Regions from separate parts of the Homo sapiens genome. Here region 2 is linked to region 1. The links come from fine-mapping of genetic effects on gene expression. A gene starts in region 1. The other region holds a variant in brackets. All regions are shown on one strand. Distances are between the middles of the regions.

What was found. PIP is the estimated chance that this variant, and not a neighbour inherited with it, causes the effect.
Region 2: its variant is fine-mapped to the expression of MMP2-AS1 in whole blood (INTERVAL, PIP above 0.99).

The regions. Positions count from the first base shown.
Region 1 is chr16:55,459,835-55,464,834 of GRCh38, reverse strand. MMP2-AS1 (MMP2 antisense RNA 1) reads left to right here and starts at 2,538. Exons shown (of 7, transcript NR_147198.1): 1 at 2,538-2,660.
Region 2 is chr16:55,426,641-55,432,164 of GRCh38, reverse strand. MMP2-AS1 (MMP2 antisense RNA 1) reads left to right here. Exons shown (of 7, transcript NR_147198.1): 5 at 2,685-2,804; 6 at 4,581-4,664; 7 at 5,195-5,368. Among named protein-coding and RNA genes, the nearest start is that of MMP2-AS1, 33 kb to the left of the region's middle. The variant G/A (reference allele first, on the strand shown) is at 3,076.

The sequences.
Region 1 (5,000 bases):
TGTACTCACCCACGACCACACAGTGAGCCAGCAGCTATCTTCCCTCCTCGCTCTTGGCACGTGGGGGGCAGAAAGAAGGAGCATTTGTCATCAGGAGGCCTGGGTTCTCCTAGCTGCACTTTGCGAGCAAGAGCTCTGCAAAAGTGAGATGGTGTCACTGGGGTGGGACTTGTTGGCCCCTGGGTCATACGATGCTCTTGTTTGTCTGTCTGTCGATTACTGTAGCTATCTGGCTTGCCCATTCTTCATCCTGGTTGGGTCGAGGGTGGGGCTGGGCAGTGACCTGTCAATCAGAAATAAGGACATGGAAGTCTTCCAATCATAATAGCTTGCACTTGTTGACAGTGTTACAATATTGTTAGGCCCTGTTCTAAGTACTTTACATGTATTAGTTCATGTGATCCTTGCCACAGCCCCTGAGAATGCATTATTATTATGGTCATCTCTTTATGCATGAGGATACCAAGGCACAGAGAAGTTAAGAAACTCACTCAAGGTTACACAGAGAGTGAGTGTTGACCCAGGCAATCTGCTCTGGTGCCCACACTCTTAGGCTGGTGCCATCCAGTGCCCCCGGAGCAAGCAAGATTTGGCTTCTGCACCCTCAATGACATCAGTATTTTCTCTGGGCATCCTCGGCCAAAGCACCGTCCCTCTGGGGCTCTCTGTCTCTATATGTTTATTTGCCTGGTAAATGCTTATTAAGCCCTGTGCTGAGTGCTGGATATATAGCAGCAATTAACCGCAGTCATTGCTCTTGTGGCGTTTGCATTCCAGTGGGGAGACAGGCAATACAGAGCAAACAGACTCATACACAAGGTAATTTTAGATGGCTAGGAGACCTGGGAGGGATGAGGTCAAGATTATCTGATGAGGGCAACTTGAGAATGGGTCGTCAGGGAGGGCCTCTTGGAGGCCCTTGTTAGGTGTGAGTCCTGAAGGAGGAAAATGAAGCAGTCACATGCAGAACAAGGGGAAGAGTGTTCCAGGTAGAGCAGATGGCAAGTGCAAAGGCCCTGGGGTGGGAACAAGCTTTTTTGTATTTGAAGAACAGAAGAAGGCCACTGTGGCTGGAGCAGAGCGACAGGCACAATGAGCTTTTGTGGGTTTGGTTGGCGAGCATGTGTCCCCATCTCCTTGGGAGTTGTCCCTCCTCCCCACTGAGGACAGTGTTTCTGGGAAGGTGGATTGGGTTACTGTCCTGCCCTCTTCAGAAGCCAAGACAGTTCTAAGCCTTCCTCCTACTACCCTGCCAGGGTGGGGCTGTAATCTAGGCTGAGCCAATGGGACACTCATATGGTTTTTTTTTTTTTTTTTTTTTTTTGAGACAGAGTTTCACTCTTGTCACCCAGGCTGGAGTGCAATGGCATGACCTCGACTCACTGCAACCTCTGCCTCCTGGGTTGAAGCAATTAGCTTGCCTCAGCCTCCTGAGTAGCTGGGATTACAGATGCCCACCACCAGGCTTGGCAAATTTTTATATTTTTGGTAGAGACAGGGTTTCACCATGTTGGCCAGGCTGGTCTCGAACTCCTGACCTCAGGTGATCCACCTGAAAGTGCTGGGATGACAGACGTGAGCCACCGTGCCCGGCCCACTCATATGACCTCGCGTGACATAGATACAGATGGAACAATGGCAGCCCAGGCACAGCAACTGCGGGACCCTGAGGCCTGGTGTTCCCACCTTGATGTCTGCTCCAGTTGCCTGGCTCCCTTATCCTATTCTAACAAATCCCCCTTCGCTTATGTTGCCAGAGTTTACTTCTGTGGCCTACACCCAAATGACCCTACTGATGCAGTGGAGGAATGAAGGCAGATGAAGTTGGGCCCAGATGCGCTAGGCCTGGTTGGCCAAGCCAAGGAATTGGGTTGTGTTCCAAGGAAAATGAGGTCCCTGGGGATTTTTCTGGCACTGCCCTTCTGAGATGCTGTGATTCTGTGTGGGTGGCTTCCCACCTATGGGCATGACCTTAATCCACCAGCCCCTGTCCAGAAGCTCTCCCCTGCCCACCCAGGCCCAGGTCCCCACCACACTCTACCGCTAATGCACAATTGCCCTCCGCAGGCACCCAGGCAAGGTGAGCTTGGGATTACTTGTGTATTTCCCATGCACCCCCAATAAGGTCTCTCTATGGCTCAGATAAACATCTCTAAGATTTTATCCCTACCATACACTCCACCAAATGAAGAGTAAAACGAGAAGGGAGGAGAAATAGACAATCAGAACGTTCATCTTATATGTTGTGGAGCCCAGGAAGGGGACTGAGGAGGGGTCAGGGAGCCAAGGTTCAGCCAGTGCCCCAAGTGCCTCCTGCCCTTGAATTCCGAAGCATCAGGAATCAGTCACGGTAACAACAGCCAGCTGGTGACCCCAATCCCTCTGCACAGCAACAAGCCTTGGCTCTTGTTTTTCTAAGAATCCAGTCAATCCTCTTTCCTGTAAGTTGCAACCCAGTCCTCCCCCCAGGCCGGGCTGAGGACACAGCTTGTCTTCCCGATGGTGTCACCTAGAACTCTGGTTCCCCTGCTCCCTTTCTCTTCAAATAGGAAAATTGGCACAGCTTGACTTTCTTCCACTGCCCTCCCAGCCACAGCTTAGACACCTACAAACTCCCACCGCAGGCTGGAGTGCCCTGGAGCCCTAACTGTGATACCCAGGTCAGTTTCCAAATCTGTACCTTTCTGCGTCTCCTGTTCCAACTCTCAGTGAACTCAGCTGGTTCCTGCCCTTCCTCCCCAATGACCAGCCCTGAGGAATTGACAGCTAGGCCACAGCCGCCTCTTCCTCCAGCTTGACCCTAATTGGAATAAGTACCTCTATCATGGAATCCCAGAGGGACTTACGGTGGGGTTGTAGGCAGTGAGCCATGATTGCACTACTGCTCTCCAGCCTGGGCAACAGAGTGAGACCTTCCAAGAGAGAAAGAGAGAAAGAGGGAAAGAGAGAGAGAGAGAACAGAAACAGGAAAAGAAAGAAAGAAAGAAAGAAAGAAAGAAAGAAAGAAAGAAAGAAAGAAAGAAACCATTTAACATTTAAAGTTTACATTTAACAAGGGCTTACAATATGCCAGGTGTTTTACAAGTATTCATTAATTGATTCAAAAGACATTTATTGAGGGGTGTAAAATGATTATCTCTATTTTATAGATGAAGAAACTGAGGCACACAGAGGTGAAATAGCTTGCACAAATGTTGCTTAGCTGGTAAGTAGATTAGTCATGGCAAAGCTAAGCTAGGCAGCCTGCCTTCTTTTTTTTTTTTTTTTTTTCCGTGATGGAGTCTTGCTTTGTCATCCAGTCTGGAGTGCAGTGGCGTGATCTCGGCTCACTGCAACCTCCACCTCCCAGGTTCAAGCGATTCTCCTGCCTCAGTCTCCCAAGTAACTGGGATTACAGGCATGCGCATTTTTTTTTTTTTTGTATTTTTAGCAGAGACAGGGTTTTGCCATGTTGGCCAGGCTGGTCTCAAACTCCTGACCTTGTGATCCACCCACCTCAGCCTCCCAAAGTGCTGGGATTACAGGTGTGAGCCACCATGCCCAGCCCTTATAGTCTTAATAACTGAAAGACAACAGCTTCTAGAAGGATTTTGTAGCTCTCAGCATTGCCTGCCATGTCTGCACTGGGCAAGGCCTTTCCCGGGCAATTTCCTTTCCCATGACAGAAAATGGGTGGTGACCACTCTATCCTGATGTTGTGTGGTCAGCTATCTGGCTGTGGGTGCAAAAAGGATGCACTGAGACCAGGTTTTGAAGGCATTTACAGACACATGGAGCTCTTGGAAGGCTCCTCAGCTTGTCCTCTGGAGTGGTTCTCAGAGGTGGATGATGCCGCAGAAGCAGAAATGCTGCAGGTTCTCGCTTGGAACCTTCCATCCAGTCCAGGCCTGGAGGAGCAGCCATCCAGGCAGGAATTGCAGGAAAGGCTACAATCCGTAGAGAGATCTGAAAATGAGTCTATCTTAGTGAGGCAGCAGTTGGGAGCAAGAAACAGAAGCCCCCTTAGACTAACTAAGGAGAAGGGAGTCGGAGTATGATTACAAGAACCCTAGGAGGCCAGCGGCGGGGCTTGAAAATCACGGGCTCAGGCTGCACTCAGCTCTTTCTCCCTGCGGTCTCTGTTCCCCAAGCTCCCCTCTCTGCAGCCACCCTGGGCAGCTCACTCTCCCTATCCCCTGACCCCTCACAGTGGCTCCGTGTGATCTCTCGGTCCACTCAGCTGTCCTTCCAGGTCCCTGTGGAGAATCCCTGAGATAGGAACATAGAAGGTGTGGGGGCCAGAGGGGGTGCAGAAGGTGAGGCACCATTTCATCCGTAACAGCCATGACCAGAAATGCTAGTAAATGCTTTTTGAGGCTTGTTTCATCGTGAGATTTTGCTTCAGAGGCCATTTGGGCGTTTTTCAGCCCTGGCCTCTTTGGCTGCCGGAAATAAGATCCCACTCTAGCAAAGGGAGGTCCTTTTTTCTTCTTTTACAATTCCACATCTTTCCAAGGGTGATATTCAGTAAGCCCACCTCAGATGGCATCTGAGAGTGTTAGATTTTGCTCATCTGATGCTGAGGATGGTGTCTGAAACACAGTCAGTGCTGAGTAGTTGTTGTGAGCAGGAGCGGTTGGCTTCCTGCATATCCCAATGAAATCAGCCCGGGGGCTGCAGGGTGCTTTTCGGAGGGGCCATTCCCCAGGAGAGTGAGGATTGTGGGGATCCCAGTCAGTCCTGTCTCTCTGAATTCAGCCAGCTGCTTTCCTGAGCTCCCAAACAAGGCCGTTTTTTCAGCATCTATTACATTGGTGCAAAAGTAAATGTGGTTTTACTCAATGGTAAAACCACAATTACCTTTGCACCAACCTAATAGGGTTCCAAGACCTTGGGTGTCACAGGCCCAGGCAAATGAAGCTGAGGGCCAGGGGTGAGAGGAGATGGCTGGATTGGAGACTGGTGCATGAACTGGGCATAAGCACTGCAGGAGGGAAGCTGGGTGGGGCCTGGGAGAGCTG
Region 2 (5,524 bases), 33 kb after region 1:
AGCTGGGACTATAGGCGCCCGCCACCACACCTGGCTAATTTTTTGTATTTTTGTGGAGATGGGGTTTCACCATGTTAACCAGGATGGTCTTGATCTCCTGACCTCGTGATCTGCCCGCCTTGGCCTCCCAAAGTGCTGGGATTACAGACGTGAGCCACAGCGCCTGGCTCAACTAAATCTAAATTTCTTATTTCTTTTGATAAGTCAGGAAATCTGGAGACATTGGACAGGCTCCTCTTCCCAATTAGCCACACTCCCCACCATGCCCCAAGACTTCCCCAATACCAGGGGATGTGTTGTTATGTAATACCATGCTTGCACTGTTGCTTTTTTCTTATATAGAGGACCACAGTTGTATGGCTGTGGCTTTAACAGACATGGAAGCAAAATGAACCTAGAATTAGACTCATGTTTGGAGAAGAATGAGAAGGAACACATTTTTTGGTGGAAGTGACAATTATTCCTATGTGCTATCTTTAAGGTACAAAGGACTCCTTACTTCACTCATTTTCACATGCACTCTCTTTGCTGTAACTCCTGTGACCAAGTCCCCAGGCATTGAGACTCATCCCATAGAGAAGCAGTAGGGCACAGGGGTTAGGAGCATGGCCCTTCTGGGTTTTCTTTGGCTAAGTTAGCTTGGGTAAAGTTAGCAAGTTTTGTTGGGCTGGGGTTAAGCTCCTTAACTTCTCTTTCCTTCAGTGTCCTCATCTTCAAAAGGGGGTGATGATGATAATAACACCTATCTTGTAGGTGATTGTGAAGATGGAATGAAACAAGAAATGTAAAGAGTGAATGAAGCCGGGCACAGTGGCTCATGCCTATAATCCCAGCACTTTGGGAGGCTGAGGCAGGTGGATCACTTGAGGTCAGGAGTTTGAGACCAGCCTGGCCAACATGGCGAAACCCCATCTCTATTAAAAATACAAAAATTAGCCAGGCGTGGTGGTGCGCACCTGTAATCCCAGCTATTGGAAGGCTGAGACATGAGCATCACTTGAACCTGGGAGGCGGAGGTTGCATTGAGCCGAGATCTGGCCACTGTTCTCCAGCATGGGAGACAGAACGAGACTTCATTTAAAAAAAAAAAAGTGAATGATATTACCTGACACCTGGTAAGGAGGCAGAGGACAGGAGTATTTTTGTCATTATGGTGAGTGACAACATACCAACTCACTCATTAGTTAATTTATTTGGTAAGTGAAGATCGACTTAGTGACTAAGAAGGTTGATGCCTTTGAAAAGTGCCAAATCAAAAAATTTGAAGGTTTCTTGGTCCATGTCAGTGGTTCTCAATCCTGGAAGTGGATGGGAATAATCTTTGTTGCTCTCCCCAGATACTAGTCTGGGGACCCACCAAAGAGCAATTACACCAGACCCTCCAGGGACAGGATTTGTGGCCCCCAGAATGATGACAACTATGCCAGGTTACGGTCAGGATGGGAAACTCGTCTCAAGTCAGGTCAAGGTCATGCGCAGTCCTGAGACCAGGTGCCTCCTTACATTACACACCCTCAGTGCCTCATTTACCTGCCCTGGTCCCTGTCTTGCCTCAAACCACTAAAACAGAAACTCCATGAGGGCAGAGACTTTTTCCCTATTTTTCTTTCACTACTATCCCAGTGCCTGGAACAGCAGTGCACATATAATATGCTCTTGATAAATACTTATTGAGAGAATGAATAAATGGATACATGAATAGGCCCATCTTCCAAAGGTTCGGATTGCAGTCACCTCTTTGCTAGAGACTGCTGGATTTGCTCTACATAAACCAGAAGAGTGGAGTCCTAGACTTCAGATGCTCAGTGTTTCCAGAAGAGACCTTCAAGGTCAGCTGGGACAATTTCTTTTTTTTTTTTTCCAAACCATCTCTCATCATCATGATATTTTCCTTGTCTGCATCCCACTTGAGCTGTTATTTCCTTAATGGTGGCTTTACATCAATTCGTGCTTACTTAGAAACATCTGTCTGACAAAGAAACCCTAAAAAGATCAGTTCTGCCAAGGAAAAACTATCACTTGCCATACATAGAAAGGCAACTGTGAAATTAAGTACAAAGGAAATAAATCAAGTTATGAAATGGAGTTGGATGCTGATGCCTGCTGAGGATGTGAGCCTGGGCCTTCCCCTCTTATCATTATGAAGAGAGGGTTGAAAACATTGCAGAGGTGTTAAAGAGATGTTAGCATTGGATTGAGACTTTCTCTTAGAGGGAGTCAGAGGCTAGAAAGAGTCCAGAAGTGATACCTTTCTCTCTCTGAGTTAGTACTGTTTAATACCATGTCTTTGCATGTCACCCAAACCCATCCATGTGCTGCCCAACCATCAGTGGTATTCATCCCACTGGAGAAATCCATAGTTAGTCCCAGCTCCTTATTTTGTAAGACTTAGGTCCAAAGAGGCCCAAGTTCATATTCATTTATTCATTCATGCATTTGTTTGACATATATCAAACACCTCCTATATGCCTGGCACTGTGAACTAGACAGGCTAAGTCCCAGCTATTTTGGAGCTACCAACCCAGGGTCAGAGGAGGGGCTATACCTTTGGTCCCAGACCCCTAGTGCAGTGCTCCTTCTCTGCCCCTTCTCAGAAGGTGTTTTTGTAATCCCCATCTACACCCTACCCTCATGGGTGACTTGGGCACTTAGTGTTGCATTAACATCGTTTCCTTTTAATAAAGCAGCTACATTTTCACCCCATCCCGGGCTCCATGTTCCTGCTGCACACACATCAAGAATGCTGCTAATTTCAGCGTCTGCCTTCCAGACCCAGACGTCAAAACAACTACCTTTCATCTCAGGTTTGTAACACAGAAAACCTTCAATATTGGGAACAGATAACCTCGAAGGTGGGTTCATATCTCTCAGCACGATTGCTGTAACTTAACTCTGCTGCACCCGATCAAGGCTTTCTCTCTGCCTCATAGGTATTTTAATACAAATGTTCCTTTCATTTGGCTGATTGAAGGTCTCCAACCTGCAATAAATGAAACATCTGATCCCCTTGAATCCAAATAACTTTTTCTTTGATTTTCTTTTACTTCTATTTCTTCGTCCTTTGTTCTACAGCCC[G/A]AGTCAAATTTCCCTTTAGAAATTGAAAGAATGTGTGTGGGTTTTTCCTGCTTTTTTTTTTTTTTTAACCAAGCTCTAGTGCAACCGCTGGTTCATGGACTAGAATATTAAGATCCAATTCAATGGCAGACTGTCTCCAGCAATGTTGTATTTTTATTTTTTTTTGCCGTCATCCCCCCCACCCACTTGTGAGCAATGGTTGTACAAATTAGCCTCTGTGTACTAGTCACCGAAGCTGGCTTCCCAATTAACCCCAGGCTTGAGAGAAAATAAGACTAAAGATTCTTCCCCTCCTGAAAGAACTAAGTTATCCATGCACAAAAGCCTACATGTTGGCACCTGGCTATGGAGTTGGGCATTTAATTGCCTTTGTAATGACTCAGTCCATCTGCATGGTATTGGGTCCCCAGTTTCAGGTAATGGGCCAGAGGGGTCTTATTAGTCTCTGGAATGACCAGGCCATGTGTATTCATCACTTCGAAAGGCAAGCAGGGTCTGTGAGAAGCTGGTGAAGCTCTTTGTGTGTTCACATCTCTGATTGTGCCCTGTGTCCACACTTAGCCAGGACACCTACCCACTTAGTGGTCTTGGCTTTGTTTCTAGGGTGAGGGCTTGAGCTGTGGGTAACAGTGCTGATTATTACATGCTAGTAAGATTGTCTCCCTCTTTGAAGTGGTAGAAAGGTTTGTCCCTTCAGGGTGATTGGGTGAATATCAGAAAGCAACCACAGGAACATTTTGTTGTACTTTGCTAAGGTCTAAATATTTGTCTCCTCCCACCAAAAATTAGTGGTTGAAACCTCATCCCCAGTGTGATGAAATGAGGAGGTGAGGCCTTTGGGAGGTGACGAGGTCTTGAAGGCAGAGCCTTTATGGATGGGATTAGTACCCATATAAAAGAGACCTCAGGGAGCTTGTTCACCCCTTCTGTCATGTTGAGTACTCAGCAAGAAGATGCCATCTATGAGGAATGGACCCCCACCAGACACCCAATCTGCCAGTAACTTGATCTTGGACTTCCCAGCCTCCAGAACTGTGAGGAATCAGTTTCTGCTATTTATGAGTTACCCAGTCTATGGCATTTTGCTATGGCAGCCCAAATAGACTGAGACATACTCCTTAACCTTTGACCCACTTCTGTTTAGGCCCAGCCAGCCTTCCTGAGCCTGTGCATAGTCTTCCTGGCTCAAGGAACTCTCTCTACCGAGGTGTGATCTCCTAACTCCTGGCACTCATTTACCTATCCATGGTTGGTAGTCAGCCTCCAAGATGCCTGCAGTCATCCCTGCCTCCTGGGATTCATATCCTCCTCCACATTGTGCCAGGATTGGGCTCTGTGGCCAAAAAGAAAACAGCAGATGAGAGGACGTGTCTCTTCTCAGAAGGGTTAGAAAAGACTGTGGCTTCCATTTTAGATGACTTTCTCTCTCTCTCTCTCTCTCTCTCTCTCTCTCTCTCTCTCTCTCCTCTTTTCCTTCTTCTCTTCCTTGGATCTCTTGCTCTGAGGAAAGCAAACTACTATGTTGTGAGCAGCCCAATGGAGAGGCCCACAAGACAACGAACTGAAGCCTCCAGCAACAACCCTGTGAGGTCAGTTTGGAAGTGGATTTTCTAGCCCCAATTGAGCTTAAGATGACTTCAGCTTCAGCAGACAGCTTGACTGCAGCCTTTCTAGAGAGCAAGCACCACCCAGCTCTGCTGCTTCTAGACCCCTGACCTCAGAAATTGCACGAGATAACATGTTTGCTGTTTCAGGCTGCCAAATTTAGGGGTAAGCTGTTATGTAGCAATAAATACCAGCACACCATGTGAGCTCGTCTCTCGAGGGACTCTCTGAGGCTCCTGATGTTCCTGGTTGGCTCCCTCAATCTATGTGCTTGTTGTCCCTTAATATGTATTTTCAGTTCTTCCTTCATAAGAAACACCCTTAGCTTTTAAGTGGATCCTTGGCTGCCTGGAATAAACACTACATTGCCCCAGGTTTTTTGGCAGTTAAATGTGATCATGTGACTTAACCGTATTCTAGTCAATGGGCATATGTGGAAGTGGTGTGTGCAACTTCTGGAGAGCACCCTTACTAGGCGGATGCACCTTTCTTTCCACTTTCCTCCTTCCTGCAGGCTGGAACTGCCCATAAAGGCTGGCACCCCAGCAGCCACCTTGAGAAATGCAGTGATGATGCTGAGTGGCAAGGCAGAAGGCACAGGGTCCCTGCACCTGAGGATTGCTGCTCCAAACCTGGGCCACCAGCCTGAAGATCCCGCCAGGGAGAAATAAAGCTCTGTTTTGCTGAAGCCACTGCTATTTTGGGGGTCTCATCTCTTCCAGCTGATTCTAACCTGAAATTGAACCTTAATTCAATCTGGCTGATCCATGAACAACCATCACGCCTTGTGCTCTGTGTCAGATAGGTTTCTTAAGGGAGAATGTCACTTACTGACAGTGATTTG